Linked DNA regions of Homo sapiens: region 2 is reported to be linked to region 1. The links are microRNA targets in miRTarBase. Many come from high-throughput screens and were not tested one by one. Region 1 holds a microRNA gene; the other region holds the end of a gene's coding sequence.

Region 1 (7,119 bases):
GCTACATTTACAGCACAATTCTATTTTTTGCTAATTGAAAGCCAGATTCTTTGCTTACGATGTTAAAACCATAGCTTCATAGCTAAGACCAGACCTAGGGAATCTTTCATTTAAATTCACCAGCCACCACCTTTTCTTTGGTGCCCCTCATAATACATCCTCCCTGGCAGCATACCATTACTGTACTTTAGGAAAATGGCGATGGTGAAGGGGCAGATTTTGCTTTCCATGCTTGCTGTGAATTCGGGGTCTACTGTACAAACGATGCACAGGGTCTCCATCACCAGGTTGAGGACCTCTGAGCTGAACTGGGCTGCTAGGTGAATTAAGCCATCAAGGATGCTGGGGAGGAAGGGCTGGAGCACGTGGGTACTCTCTGAGACTTTCAGTTGGTCACAATAACTAGAGAGAGATAGATAAGCAAGAATTATTAAAAAAAATTCAATTCCTGGTTTTCCCAATCAATCTCACATATTATAGCATTTGTATGTGTAGCTTTATAAAGCTAATTCTAAAGTTAGGTTTAAGTTTCTACTTCTTTCTGGATGTATTATATAAACATCAACACCACCATTTCTATGTTCTGTAATTTATTTCTTTGACTTTTGCTATTTTCTTTAAAAACTTCTGCTTTTTTTCTTGAGGTTTTTTTTTTTTGCATCCTGAAACAAGCTTAATTTATATAAACATTTTATGTTTCACTTTCAAAATCAGCCTATTAGCTGTAGGATTTAAAGTTCCCTCTATAGTTTTACTGTATTAGCCTCTTTTCAATCAACAAATATTTACTGAATGTTGCTTATCATGTCCAATATGATACAATTGTTAAAAATACATTGTCTAGGACCAGGCACGGTGGCTCACACCTGTGATCCCAGCACTTTGGGGGGCCAAGGCAGGTGGCCCAGTTGTTCTCTTCGAACTTGAGACAGAGGTACTTCAGAAGAAAGTCATATTATGTCAGGCAGTATAGGAAGCCACAGGATATATATATAATATTTTCGTGGGACATCAGTTTCCCCTGGAGACTTCAGGGTAAAGAGAAGATTAGGTGTTAGGAGTAACACAAGTTAAAGAAACACCGACTTCCAAAATAAAGTCCAACCTCTTTCAGCATGGCATTTAAGATCCAGCATGATGTAGATAGATGATGCAAACTCTGTAATCTACCATACGGTACAGTTTCAAGTTCATTAGAGGGGCAAAGTAACTATAAACCCTTAGAATAGAAGTGGGAAATGGAGCGAACTCCTGACCTCAGGTGATCCACTTGCCTTGGCCCCACAAAGTGCTGGGATCACAGGTGTGAGCCACCGTGTCTGGTCCTAGACAATGTATTTTTAACAACTGTATCATATTGGACATGATAAGCAACATTCAGTAAATATTTGTTGATTGAAATGAGGCGAATACAGTCTGACATAAATTTGAGTTGAAAAATGTGAAACAAGTATAATTATTTGTCAATCAGTATCTTGTTTCAGAGATTATTTAAGGGAGTTTGCAATGATACATAAACTATGACATGAAGGAATAAATTAAAACTGGGGCTAAAGAAAAAAAGAAAAGCAACGGTGGAATGCTGATCATTAAAAGGTTACTAGTGACATTAGAAAAGACAGCTGCAGGCCGGGCGCGGTGGCTCATGTCTGTAATCCCAGCACTTTGGGAGGTGGGGGCGAGCGGATCACCCGAGGTCAGGAGTTTGAAACCAGCCTGACCAACATGGAAAAACCCTGTCTCTACTAAAAATACAAAATTAGCTGGGTGTGGTGGCACATGCCTGTAATCCCAGCTGCTGGGGAGGCTGAAGCAGGAGAATTGCTTGAACCCAGGAGGCAGAGGTTGTGGTGAGCCGAGATCGCGCCACTGCACTCCAGCCTGGGCGACAGACAGCAAGACTCCGTCTCAGAAAAGAAAAAAAAAAAAAAAAAAGAAAAATAGTTCCAATAGTGTGACACGGACATAAGCCAGTCTGCAATTGGCTGGTAAACTAAATAGGAAATGACCAAAGGGAAACTCTTGACTGAAAGAAAGATAGCTAATGATCCATTCATAGGACAGTTCTTAATCGGGATCCACAGATAGGCTTCAAGGAATCCAGTGTTTGACAATGAATATAAAATTTTGTAAACATATATGAGTGTCCATTTCTCTGGCCCACATATCCACAGCTTTTGTCATCCTACAGAGATATCTGTTACATCTCTCAAGAAAACTATTAAACCACTACCCATGTGGTCCAAGAGATATGAACATTAAAAATAAAAGTTTTCTTCACAGTTCTTCTGATTATAAAAGTAATATAAACTTGTTGAAACAAACAAACAAACAAAATATTTTATATATATAACAGAGAATGAAAGTTCTTTGTACTCTAATCTCCCCCAGAGAGAATCAATGTTGGTAAGTATGCCTGATAGGTACTGCTGTCTACCTAAAACACTCTGGAAAGTAATGGGCTTATTTTACCCAAAGTACTTTCACATTCATACCAAACTCCTCTCACAGCTTGCAGCTGCAAACATTTCCATAAAATCACAACACAAAGTGGATAATTCTCCAATGAAATCAAGTTTCACTAAGGTCAGAAGCTAAACAGGCAGTGACCACAGGTACAAACTCAGAAAAACCCTTAAAATAACATTCATGCCTTAAGCAGCTTAGGGCTCTCTCTTCTCAGACATTTAAAATGGTGTTAGAGCTTTCTGAAAAAGCTATACTTAGTTTGCCTCTTAAGATGATACTTCTAATTATTTTAGAGCCAAAGATCTGCTTCACCTAGATTGAAGCAGAAAAAGATGGGACGGTGTTTATGGTCATAACATTAACCATTTAATTAAAACAGGCAGTTCTTGAATGCTTTCTAATGACATATAACACACGGCATCTCAAAAGATACTCCTCTGCCTCAAAAGATAAGACAGGGCAGGCACATGGAAAATAAATTTTGTGTTGGTAGTTATAGGATTCAGTTGAGATGTTTAAGTTTGAGCCTAAGATATTCCTTAAAACAACAATGGTCCTTCTAGTCTGCGTAGGAATATAAATAAATGACTTTTGATCCATTAGTAACACTAGCCTTAAAAAAGATAGGTAAAACTGGGAAAAAATAAGCAGTGTTTCTAGGTCACATTATCCCAGATTTGGTTTCTAATATAATCAACCAACAAAATGATGTGGACTCTAATCCTGCTTCTATCATTCATCAATTGTGCAACCCTGTGCAAAACATTTTTCTCTCCAAACCTCAGGTTCTTCACCATTGAGAGAAAGGGAGTTGCCTAGATGATTCCAGAACTGGAGCGAATTTAAAGAGGAAGAGGAGCAGAAAGGAACAGGACATCTTCTGGACTCACAAAAGCCATGTCTCTAGCATGGTTTCTTTCCCTGTCCTTCCAACATTCACCCTGAAGGATATCATTAGCAGGGATTTCCAAGCAACATAATACACTGGAAAACTGTGATTTGTTATATCTAACCTGAGCAACTTTCCCTTAATTATCACGCTAGGGTAGCATACTCACCCCCAGATGGCTCTCACTGCAGAAATTCGAACTGATGGGGGCTGTGTCTCGTGAAGACCACTAACTGTTGCCTGTAGGAACTGCTGGATCAGTTCAGGGGACATAGCAACAGTGAACCGACTGGCAGCCCAAAGTGCCCGGCCCAAGAGGAAAGGAGACACTGGGAGAAAGACAGAACAATTAGGGGCTGGAAAATGAAAATTCCTTTTACTTGTTCTTTCTCTTTCCCACATTCATTCCTCAATTTTTTTTTTTTGAGATGGAGTCTCACTCTGTCACCCAGGATGGAGTGCGATGGCGTGATCTCGGCTCACTGCAACCTCCGTCCCCCGGGTTCAAGCAACTGTCCTGCCTCAGCCTCCTGAGTAGTTGGGATCACAGGCGCCTGCCACCATGCCCGGCTAATTTTTTGTATTTTTAGTAGAGATGGCGTTTTGCCATGTTGGCCAGGCTGGTCTCAAACTCTGGACCTCAAGTGATCTGTCTGCCTCGGCCTCCCAAAGTGCTGGGATTACAGGCATGAGCCACCGCATCCGGCCCTCCATTCCTCAATTTTTTAGAAGTAAATAGATGCTACATAATATGTACAACTCATTTGAGAGAAAAAGCATAACCTTGTATGATGAAAGCAAATGTGTGACCTGTGGTACAAAATCAATTTCCCAGTTTTCCCTTGTCTCTTCTGAGCAAAGTAGATCTTGAATATTATTAGACTAAAAAGACTTTACCACCCCAGTCCTCACCCCCAGCTCTCATTATTCCTTACCTGTACTACTAGTTAATCTTTTTTTTTTTTTTTTTGAGATGAAGTTTCATTCTTGTTGCCCAGGCTGGAGTGCAACAGTGCGATCTCGGCTCACCACAACCTCCACCTCCCTGGTTCAAGTGATTCTCCTGCCTCAGCCTCCCCAGTAGCTGGGATTACAGGCATGCACCACCACGCCCAGCTAATTTTGTATTTTTAGTAGAGATGGGCTTTCTCCATGTTGGTCAGGCTGGTCTCAAACTCCTGACCTTAGGTGATCTGCCTGCCTTGGCCTCCAAAAGTGCTGGGATTACAGGTGTGAGCCATGGTACCCGCCCACTTAATCTTCTAAGTTGCCATCTCCATTGCTAGTTTATTCCCACTTTTGGACCACTCTTTTTTTTTGAGATGGAGTCTTGCTCTGTTGCCCAGGCTGGAGTGTAGTGGCACAATCTCAGCTCACTGTAACCGCTGCTTCCCGGGTTCGAGCGATTCTCCTGCCTCAGCCTCCCGAGCAGCTGGGATTACAGGTGCGTACCACCACGCCTGGCTAATTTTTGTATTTTTAGTAGAGAGGGGGTTTCACCATGTTGGCCAGGCTGGTCTTGAACTCCTGAACTCAAGCAATCCACTCGGCTTGGCCTCCCAAAGTGCTGAGATTACAGGCATGAGCCACCGCGTGCAGCCTTGGACCACTCTTAAAACATAAATTATAGCTCTGATCATGTCATTCTTCTATTTAAAATCTGTCAATTAATTCCATAGTCCACCAAATAAAGATTACCTTAGTCATCACGTTATTCAAGGCTCCCTAAGATCAGTGACTCTAGCATTACCTATGATTTCCCTTTATGGTTTCCAAACTCAAGTACACATCCCTCCTTAGCAACTTACATCTTACTCTCCCAGCTCTCTGCCTTGTTCATATTGCAAGCCAACATATTCACCTCCTTGCATTACCTAATTCATCTCTTAGGCTGAAGCAATTCTAACTATCTCTATGCCACAGTAATTCTGTCTTTAGTGTTCTTACATGTTATATATTTCGTTTGATAGTCTAGCCACTAATGTAAGGATTACTACCCTTGTTTACTATAAGCTGCTGAGGAGAGACTATTCTTATTCAGCTTGTCACAGGGCTTAACTTGTTTACTCACACAATAAACATCTTGTTGACGGAAAACACTGAACAGAACCTAATAAACTGTGCCAGTCAAATTACGCAATACAGATGCTCCTCTGCTTATGATGGGGTTACTTCCTGATAAACACATCGTAAGTTGAAAATACTGTAAGTTAAAAATGCATTTAAATTTAATACTGAACATCACAGCTTAGCCGGGCCTACCTTAAACATGCTCAGAACACTTACATTAGCGTAAAGTTGGGCAAACTCACGTAACACAAAGCCTATTTTATAATAAAGTGTTGAATATCTCATATAATTTATTGAATACTATACTGTAAGTGAAAACAGAATGGTTGTAAGGGTACTTGAAGTATAATTTCTACTAAATGCATATTGCTTTGGCATCACTGTAAAGATGAAAAATCATAAGTCCAACCACTGTAAGTGAGAAACTGATAATGTACAGAAGCAGTTCCCAAAGGATGGTCCAGAAATTCCCTAAAGTTAAAACTATTTTCACAGTAATACAGAAACATTATTTTTTTCACTTTCATTCCTTCTTTTTTTTGAGACAGAGTCTCGCTCTGTTGCCCAGGCTGGAGCGCACTGGCACAATCTCGGCTCACTGCAACCTCCGCCTCCTGGGTTCAAGCAATTCCTCTACCTCAGCCTCCTGAGTAGCTGGGATTACAGACGCGTGCCACCACGCCCAGCTAATTTTTGTATTTTTAGTAGAGATGGGGTTAGGCCATGTTAGCCAGGCTGGTCTCGAACTCCTGACCTCATGATCCGCCCACCTCAGCCTCCCAAAGTGCTGGGGTTACAGGCATAAGCCACCATGCCCGGCCTCACTTTCATTCTTTCACAAGTATACAGTGGAGTTTTCCAGAGGTTATATGGTATGTGATATCATGGCTCTGACAGCCAGGGGAAAACATGTTTCCATTTCTTTTATTTTAAAAACAACTCAGTTTTAATCTTTAGTATGTTAAATATTAATAAATTAAAGCCACATAAAAATGTCTTTTAAATTATTGATAATTTGTAACCAAAAAGTTTCAGAATGGTTGGTGTAGAAAAGGTTTTAGCTACAGGTAGGATTAACAAATGATATATATTGAGCCTTTTTCCAGACTAAATAACAAATATTCTAAAATTTCCAAAGTTTTTGAAAAATCTTTGCTAGGGTAAACTCTATAAGAAATGTGTTGATGGGCTTCAGAAATCATTCAATGTGTAACTATGGGATGCCTACTCAAGGCACTTGTAGGATACAAAGATTAGACATGATTTCTACTCTCAGAGACCTTACTAGTAGGAGTAAGAAAACATATTCAACAATGCAGCATATGATAAGTACAGAGTGAAACAGGATATTCCCAACGCATCTGAGCTCTGGATGTACAACCATTTTAATTTGTGATTCAGAGAATGGAAGTGATGGACTGAGACACCCGATAATAGATTACCTATTTAAAATCACAGAGCAGAACATTTTCAAATGACATAAGCTACTCCCAGAACTATCCTATGGAGAGGAAGTAAATGGACCGAAAATGGAGCAAACAATACCAAAGGTTCCATGATTTAAGTACTGAGAGAGAAAGCAAAGGCAGTGTTTTCGGATGGTGATCTGGCTCCAAGGATGAGAAAAGGCATGGCATGGCAGAAGCAAGTAGCAGAAAATGCCACATAGACAACAATGATTCTCAGCTACT
Region 2 (7,119 bases), not on the chromosome of region 1:
TTTTTGCATTGCTATAAAGAAATACCTTCGGCTGGGTAATTTATAAAGAAAAGAGGTTGAATTGGCTCAGGATTCTGCAAGCTGTACAGGAAGTATCGTGCCTGCGTCTGCTCAGCTTCTGGGGAAGCCTCACGTAGCTTTTACTCTTGATGGAACGTGAAGGAATCGGCATGTCACATGGCAAGACAGCAAGAGAGAGGAGGGGAGGTCACAGACTCTTTTATTTATTTATTTATTTATTTTGAGATGGAGTCTCGCTCTGTTGCCCAGGCTGGGGTGCAGTGGCACAATCGTGGCTCACTGCAACCTCCACCTCTCGGGTTCAAGTGATTCTCCTGCCTCAGCCTCCTGAGTAGCCGGGATTACAGGCGCCTGCCACCATACCCGGCTAATTTTTGTATGTTGAGTAGAGACAAGGTTTTGCCATGTTAGGCCAGGCTAGTCTCGAACTCCTGACCTCAAGTGAGCCGCCTGCCTCGGCTTCCCAAAGTGCTAGGATTACAGGCATGAGCCACCACGCCTGGCAGAATATTGTAGTCTCAAATACAATAATCATGGAAGGCCTCCGAGGAGGTGATGTGAGGAGTGGACAGATGAGGTCAGGCCATGAGGGTGTTTTTGAGAAGAGCAAGCCACAGAGTGCACCAGGTCACTCACTTATGTGGGAAGCAGGTGGAGGGCAGATGGTCTGGATACCTGGGCGCAGGGATGGGAGTGGCCAGGAGTGCTGACCTCTCATCTGGCTGCCCAGGGCAAACAGAGAGCCGTGGTCGGCTGCAGGGGGTGGCAGAACTGCGTCTGGCAGGTTTGGAGCTGACAGATGCCTCCCTGCGTCTCCTGCTGCGTCACGCACCCCAGCTGAGCGCCCTGGACCTGAGCCACTGCGCCCACGTCGGGGACCCCAGTGTTCACCTCCTCACGGCCCCCACGTCCCCACTCCGCGAGACCCTGGTGCACCTCAATCTTGCTGGTAAGCACGGTCCCCCATCCGTCCTGCCAGCCTGTGGATCCCCACGGCCAGTGCCAACCCCTTGCTCACCTGCCTGGTCTCAGCTCCACTGCCCCATCCCCAGGTTGCCACCGCCTAACGGACCACTGCCTCCCGCTGTTCCGCCGCTGCCCTCGTCTACGCCGCCTAGACCTGCGCTCCTGCCGCCAGCTCTCACCCGAAGCTTGTGCCCGGCTGGCAGCTGCCGGGCCCCCTGGCCCCTTCCGCTGCCCTGAGGAGAAGCTGCTTCTCAAGGACAGCTAGTTGGGCGCCCCCCACCCTCCCCCGGACTCGACAGGAGCCTGGACCTCCGGCTTCATTTCACCCCTGCTGGGAGGCCAGGTTCCCACCTCACCACCCTGGGATTCCTGAGTGTCAGTGACTTGGGATTCCCACCCAGGGACTCAAGCCAGCCACCCCCTTCTTTCCCCCCTGCACTGATATCTCTGGGGGTTTCTCCTTCCTATGTCCTGCCCCTGCTACCTGCTTCATTGTCCATCCCCTGGGGGAGTGGGTCAGAGGTACTGGAGGGTGCTGAGCCGAAGGGACGGTGGGAGGGGGGTTATGGTGCAAGTGTTGGGGGGGAGAATGGGGAAAGGACACACACAGGATATGGGAGCCAGGGGCTGGGGGAGGTGGAAGGGGCGGGGGGCGGGGCAGACAGCAGACCACCAAGGGTTCAGGGAACAAAGACCAGTTACTTGGAGTGGGGGGTGGGGGTGGGGCCACAAAAGGAAAACCGGAGGAGCAATTGGGGATCCAGGTGTCAGAGGTAGGGGAACCAGGGGCAAGCTGGGGCTGAGCTGGAGGTGGGGATGAGAGCAGGTGTGGGGACAGCAATACCCCCTTGGGGGTCACCTCTCTGCTTCCCCCCTCCCCAGGCTTCAGTTCCTTCCCCCTGACCCTGACTCCTTGAACGTCACTGAAAACGGCAGCTATTGCAAGGAGTGGGGGCCGCGGGCAGCCGCTCTTCAGCTCGCGGCCCAGGGGAGTGGCGAGGGGCGCCCCAACCCCCTGCCCGCCTCTCCGCACAATACTTGAACATTCATCTGTACTGAAGTGTTACTTGAACCGGGGGAATCTCGGACCTGGGGGAGCCGGGGTGTGAGGGGACTGGACCAGCTTGGACTGAGACCTGAGACCGGGCCGGTGGGCGCCCATTTGGGACTGCGCCACCCCCAGGCTTGTTCTTGTTTTACTGTATTGAGCGGCGGCACCCGCCGGACCCGCATTATGGCTGGGGGCGCCAGCCCAAGAATGGGGACCATGGGACTCCTCCAGCCTGGCTCTTCCCACTCTTTCATCGTCATGGAAACTTGTATCCCATTTGCCCAGGGAACTGCCACTCCTGGTTGCCATGGAAATAGCAGCCAACGGACACCTCCCGATGCCAGTGCTAAGGCTGGAAATGGCCCCCTCTTAGTTGCCATGGGAACCTAGTAACAGACTCTGCTGGCCCTCCTTCCCTGCCCCTTCCTCGAGCGCGGGGTGGGGCTTCGGGACCCCGGGGATGAGCCGGGCCAGGTCCCGCCCCTCCGCGCAGGCCTCCGGGGGGCCGGGGCTTACCATGTAGGGGAGGGGAGATCTATCCACATACCTCAGGTAACAGGGAGGTGCGCGGGTGGGGGGAGGGCTGGGCGGACCAAAGGCCGGAGGGGTGGGGCCTGGGGATAGCGAGAGGCTTGAGAATGGGGCCGCTTGGGGGAGGGAAGAGGCAGCCCGGCGAGGGGCAAGCGGGGGACCCAGCCGGGCTGGGCCCCTGGGCCCCGGGTCTGTACAATACGGTTTGCTATAAAACTCAAAATCTTCCAGCCGGGGCTGCGGAGTTCGTGTGTGTATCTGCGGGGTCCCTACCTACAGATGAGTGGGCTCACCTCTCCTGGACTCATTTTGGGAGGGATTTGGAAGTGTGGACACCTGGGGTGTCCAGCTGTACCTTGGAGGGGGCTGGGGTTGGCGTGCACCTCGGTGGGGTCCGGGCGCTTGGATAACGTTCTTGGTGGGTAGGGGTCGCGGGGAATCTCTGCGGGCCCGGGACTGCGGGGACTTGGTCCCCGGCTCCACCCCATCATGTGGCTAGCCCCGGCTCCGCCTCTGTCCCAGTTCCTGTTTTGGCCTCCGCTGTCCCGCTCCGGCTCCTGGGGCTCCCCGCAGACGCTGCTTTTCTTGCTCCACTGGGGGTGCCTCTTCCTGGGCGCCCGCCGCCTGCATCCTGCTCGTCCTGTCTGGGAATGGGGCCGCCCCCGGGCTTGGGCCGGCCCGGCTGGGGCCCCCGAGGCGCTTCCGCCCCGTAGTGACCGCCTGGTGCCGCCCCCCCCCCAGGATGAAGGGCGGCGAGGGGGACGCGGGCGAGCAGGCCCCGCTGAACCCTGAGGGCGAGAGCCCTGCAGGCTCGGCCACGTACCGGGAGTTCGTGCACCGCGGCTACCTGGACCTCATGGGGGCCAGTCAGCACTCGCTGCGGGCGCTCAGCTGGCGCCGCCTCTACCTCAGCCGGGCCAAGCTCAAAGCTTCCAGCCGCACGTCTGCCTTGCTCTCGGGCTTCGCCATGGTGAGGGGCCGGGAGGGGTCACACCCGGTGGGGCAGAGCAAGTGGGGGGCACAGGTCGGGGGGGGGGCGAAGTAAACAGGTCCCAAGGGAGACAGGTTAAAGGGGGCTTTCGTCAAAGGGGGAAGGAACAAGGTCCCGCGGGACTGAGCAAGTCCCTTCTTACGGATGTGTGTGTACAGGGGACCCCAGGAGACGGGGCCACCGGAGGACACGAAAGTCCTAAAGGTGTCGTAGTGGGAGTGGGGTGAACAAATCGCTGGTGGGGTTGACTGCAACAGTGAGGCAGAGTGGTCCAGATGGAGCCTGTACCTGGCAGAAGTGGTTCCTAAGTCCCAGTGCCAGCTTCAAAGGCAGGTCAGCTGGGTGGGGGCTGCATCAACAGGTGGGGGGCTCGAGATGGATTAGCTGGGTGGAAGGGTCACCCAGCTGAAGGTGGGCCCGTCCCAGGGAAGGTGGCCACTCTCCAGCGGGCCCAAGGGGTGCTAGTGTCAACCAGGAAAACTGACAAGAGATCATGCCCGGGAGGGAACCGCTGGGGAAGGAGGCTGATGAGGAAACTGATAAGCGAGTCTCAAGCTGATAAACCCCAGGTGCAGGAGGACGGTGTTGGCTAACGGTCTGCCCCAGCAGTGGCCTCACAGGAAGTGGGATGGAGGGAGGTCCCAGGGTGAGGATCAGCAGACACAGTCCTGGCTCCTCCCTGCTTGTGGCCAGCTGTGTGACCCTGGACAGGCCTCCACCCCGCTTGCAAGCCAGTGGGAAACTGAGATCATGGAGGGTGCGCCCTCTGTAGCCAGCCAAGTAACCGCCCCAGGGTGAGCCAGGCATGTCAGAGCAGGTCACGTACCAAGGATGGCTCAGACTAGCCTGCTAATTGGACAGGTGTGGAAAGTAAAAGCCTTGCCTCTGGGCAGGAGCGAATGAACTGGGACCCAGGGTTGCTGCTCTGTTAGTCTGGGGTTGCCCCACCATCACCCCAGGAAAAAGGAGAAAGTGAGCTGCAGGAGGTACTTTGGGGAACGCACTCCTGTGGGGGTGGATATCAGAGGCGGTTGGGGTGGGGACCATGGCGCTAGGGGATCTGGGCTAGTCCCTGCCCTGTCTGTGCCACAACCTCCATATTTGAACAATGACAGGGAAACTCTCTAACCCTAAGGGTCATCATAAGCCTATGGTCTTCTATGTGGGGTCCCAGAATCCACAGACCAGCTTACCTTTCATGATGGGGGCATCACCTAGGGACAGGATGTTGGCTCCCCTTCATCTGCACAGCCTGCAGAGGGAAGGGAGCAGCCACCCAAGCTGAGGGAGGTCAACCCCATGGTCCAGCCTGTTCCCAAGGAGACAATCCCTCCACGGCAGAATATGCAGGTGCAGGTTGCTGGGGTGACAGCTTAAGGGCCCGAGCCTTCTCTGCAGGAGGAAGGGGCTGGAGGTTTAGGTTCCGGGGGCAGGACTGGCCGCAGTCCTAGCAGGGGTGACCGAGGCTGGGCCAGGCTCTGGGAGAAACCAGGACTAAGCCTGGCCCAGATCCCTGTCTGTGGAAAACACCTCCTGACACCTGCCATGGCCCAATTTCCCAAAATACTCAGCCCTGTTTTCCTACCTCCACCCGCCAGCCTCTACACCTACCTTCTTCTTTCCCCAGGCCCAGAGCAATCGAATGGACCCTACAAGAACCAGGGATGGGGAGAGAGTGGGCTTCTGAAACTCAGGTGGCCTAAGTTAGAATAGCATTATACAAATTGTATCCAGCTGTCACTAAGCACCAGGCACTGCCCTCAGTGCCTTTATATACATCATCTGTTAGCCTACAAAGTGGGTACTGCTACTCTGGCCATTTTACAGATGAGGAAACTGAGGATCAGAGATGTTAAGACACCTGCCCAAGGTCCCACAGCAAGTAAGTGGCAGGATTTGAGCCTAAGCCGTCTGGTTCCAGACTCCAAATTTATAAATTCCTAGAATAGGGTCATCAACTCAAATGTTTGCAAAGGGCCAGGCAGGTAATATGGATGCCAAATTGGCTGGGTAGGGACTAGCAAGCAAGAGACCCCATGACATTGGGGGTGATGGCTCACACCTTTCATCCCAGCACTTTGGGAGGCCAAGGCAGGAGGATCGCTTGAGCCTAGGAGCCCAGGAGTTCGAGTCCAGCCAGCCTGGGCAACATAGCAAGACCTGGCATCTACCAAAAAAAAAAAAAGAGAGACCCCATGACCTTTCCAAGGGGAGCAGCCATGACTGATTTGAGCTGATAGTTGCCATGCAGGAACGCAGGCCAAGTGTGGCTAGTTCTTCCAAGTTTTCAAGGGGATCTGGAAATAGGGATATAAGAAATCTCTTCAGTTTTACAAGTTGGCAGCATCTTCCATTTTTTAAGAAACACACTGTGTGAGCCAAGCAAAACACGTCTGCAAGCTGGCAGTGGTCCACAGTGTGCCGATTTGTAAACTCTGTCCTCAGACTTTAGCATTCACTATAGCAAGAACAGCAAACACATACCTAGTGCTTACTCTGTGCCTGGCACTGTTCTTTTTCTTTTTCTTCCTTTTCCTTTTCCTTTCCTTTCCTCTTTCTTTTTCTTTCTTTCTTTTCTTTCTTATCTTTCTTTTTTTTTTTTTTTTGAGACAGAGTCCCACACTGTCACCCAGGCTGGAGTGCAGTGGTGCGATCTCGGCTCACTGCAACCTCTGCCTCCTGGGTTCAAGCAATTCTCCTGCCTTAGCCTCCCAAGCTCCTGAGTAGCCGGGATTACAGGCGCACACCACCACGCCCGGCTAATTTTTATATTTTTAGTAGAGACAGGGTTTCACCATGTTGGCCAGGCTGGTCTTGAACTCCTGACCTCAGGTGATCCGCCCAACTCGGCCTCCCAAAGTGTTGGGATGAAAGGCGTGAGCCACCACTCCCAGCCCATTTCATGTATATTTCATTTAATGTTTATACCAACCCTATAAGGCAGGGAGGTGCTGTTATCAATCTCTATTTCCAGATAGGAAATTGAGGCACACAGAGAACTGACTTGCTCAAGATTACACAGCTAGAGCAGAGAATGATCCCAGGCAGCCCAGCTCCAGAATCTGCTGTTTGATCCCTATGCAGTAAACCTGTTAGAAGCATGTCATCCAGCCCTTTTTTTTATTTTTATTTTTAATTTTTTTTTGAGACAGAGTCTTGCTCTGTTGCCCAGGCTGGAGTGCAGTCACATGATCTCGGCTCACTCAAACTTCTGCCTCCTGGGTTCAAGCAGTTCTCCTGCCTCAGCCTCTCAAGTAGCAGGGATTACAGGCATGTGCCACGATGCCCGGCTAATTTTTGTACTTTTAGTAGAGACGGGGTTTCGCCATGTTGGCCAGGTTGGTCTCAAACTCCTGACCTCAGGTGATCCACACACTTTGGCCTCCCAAAGTGCTGGGATTATAGGCATGAACCGCCGCGCCCGGCCATCCAGCCCTCTTGATAGGGAGGTGGGGAAACCAGAACAGAACAGAGCCTTTGCAAAGCTGTCCATTCGTTTACTCAACAGAGACTGAATGTCTCTGGTTTCTGCCAGGCACAGTTCTAGGTCCTAGGGATA

What was found. Region 1 holds the annotated microRNA hsa-miR-6739-5p (UGGGAAAGAGAAAGAACAAGUA, at 3,736-3,757, opposite strand). A microRNA usually pairs through its seed, bases 2 to 8, with sites in the 3' UTR of a target mRNA and lowers its output. Matches are read on the target gene's strand: a 7mer-m8 pairs with bases 2 to 8, a 7mer-A1 pairs with bases 2 to 7 and ends in A, and an 8mer does both.
Region 2: the mRNA of FBXL19 is a reported target of hsa-miR-6739-5p. Seed matches in the 3' UTR shown: 7mer-m8 at 1,412-1,418.

What each region holds. Positions count from the first base shown.
Region 1 is chr1:201,860,016-201,867,134 of GRCh38, reverse strand. MIR6739 (microRNA 6739) reads right to left here and starts at 3,762; the gene lies at 3,688-3,762. It overlaps IPO9 (importin 9), which reads right to left. Exons shown (of 24, transcript NM_018085.5): 14 at 3,528-3,687; 15 at 176-402.
Region 2 is chr16:30,945,979-30,953,097 of GRCh38, forward strand. FBXL19 (F-box and leucine rich repeat protein 19) reads left to right here. Exons shown (of 11, transcript NM_001382779.1): 10 at 752-970; 11 at 1,074-2,805. The coding sequence ends at 1,252. It overlaps ORAI3 (ORAI calcium release-activated calcium modulator 3), which reads left to right and starts at 3,090. Exons shown (of 2, transcript NM_152288.3): 1 at 3,090-3,539. The coding sequence starts at 3,312. RefSeq lists silencers at 2,516-2,765, 3,136-3,395, 3,436-3,485 and enhancers at 3,409-3,927, 4,216-4,445, 4,446-4,963, 7,023-7,119.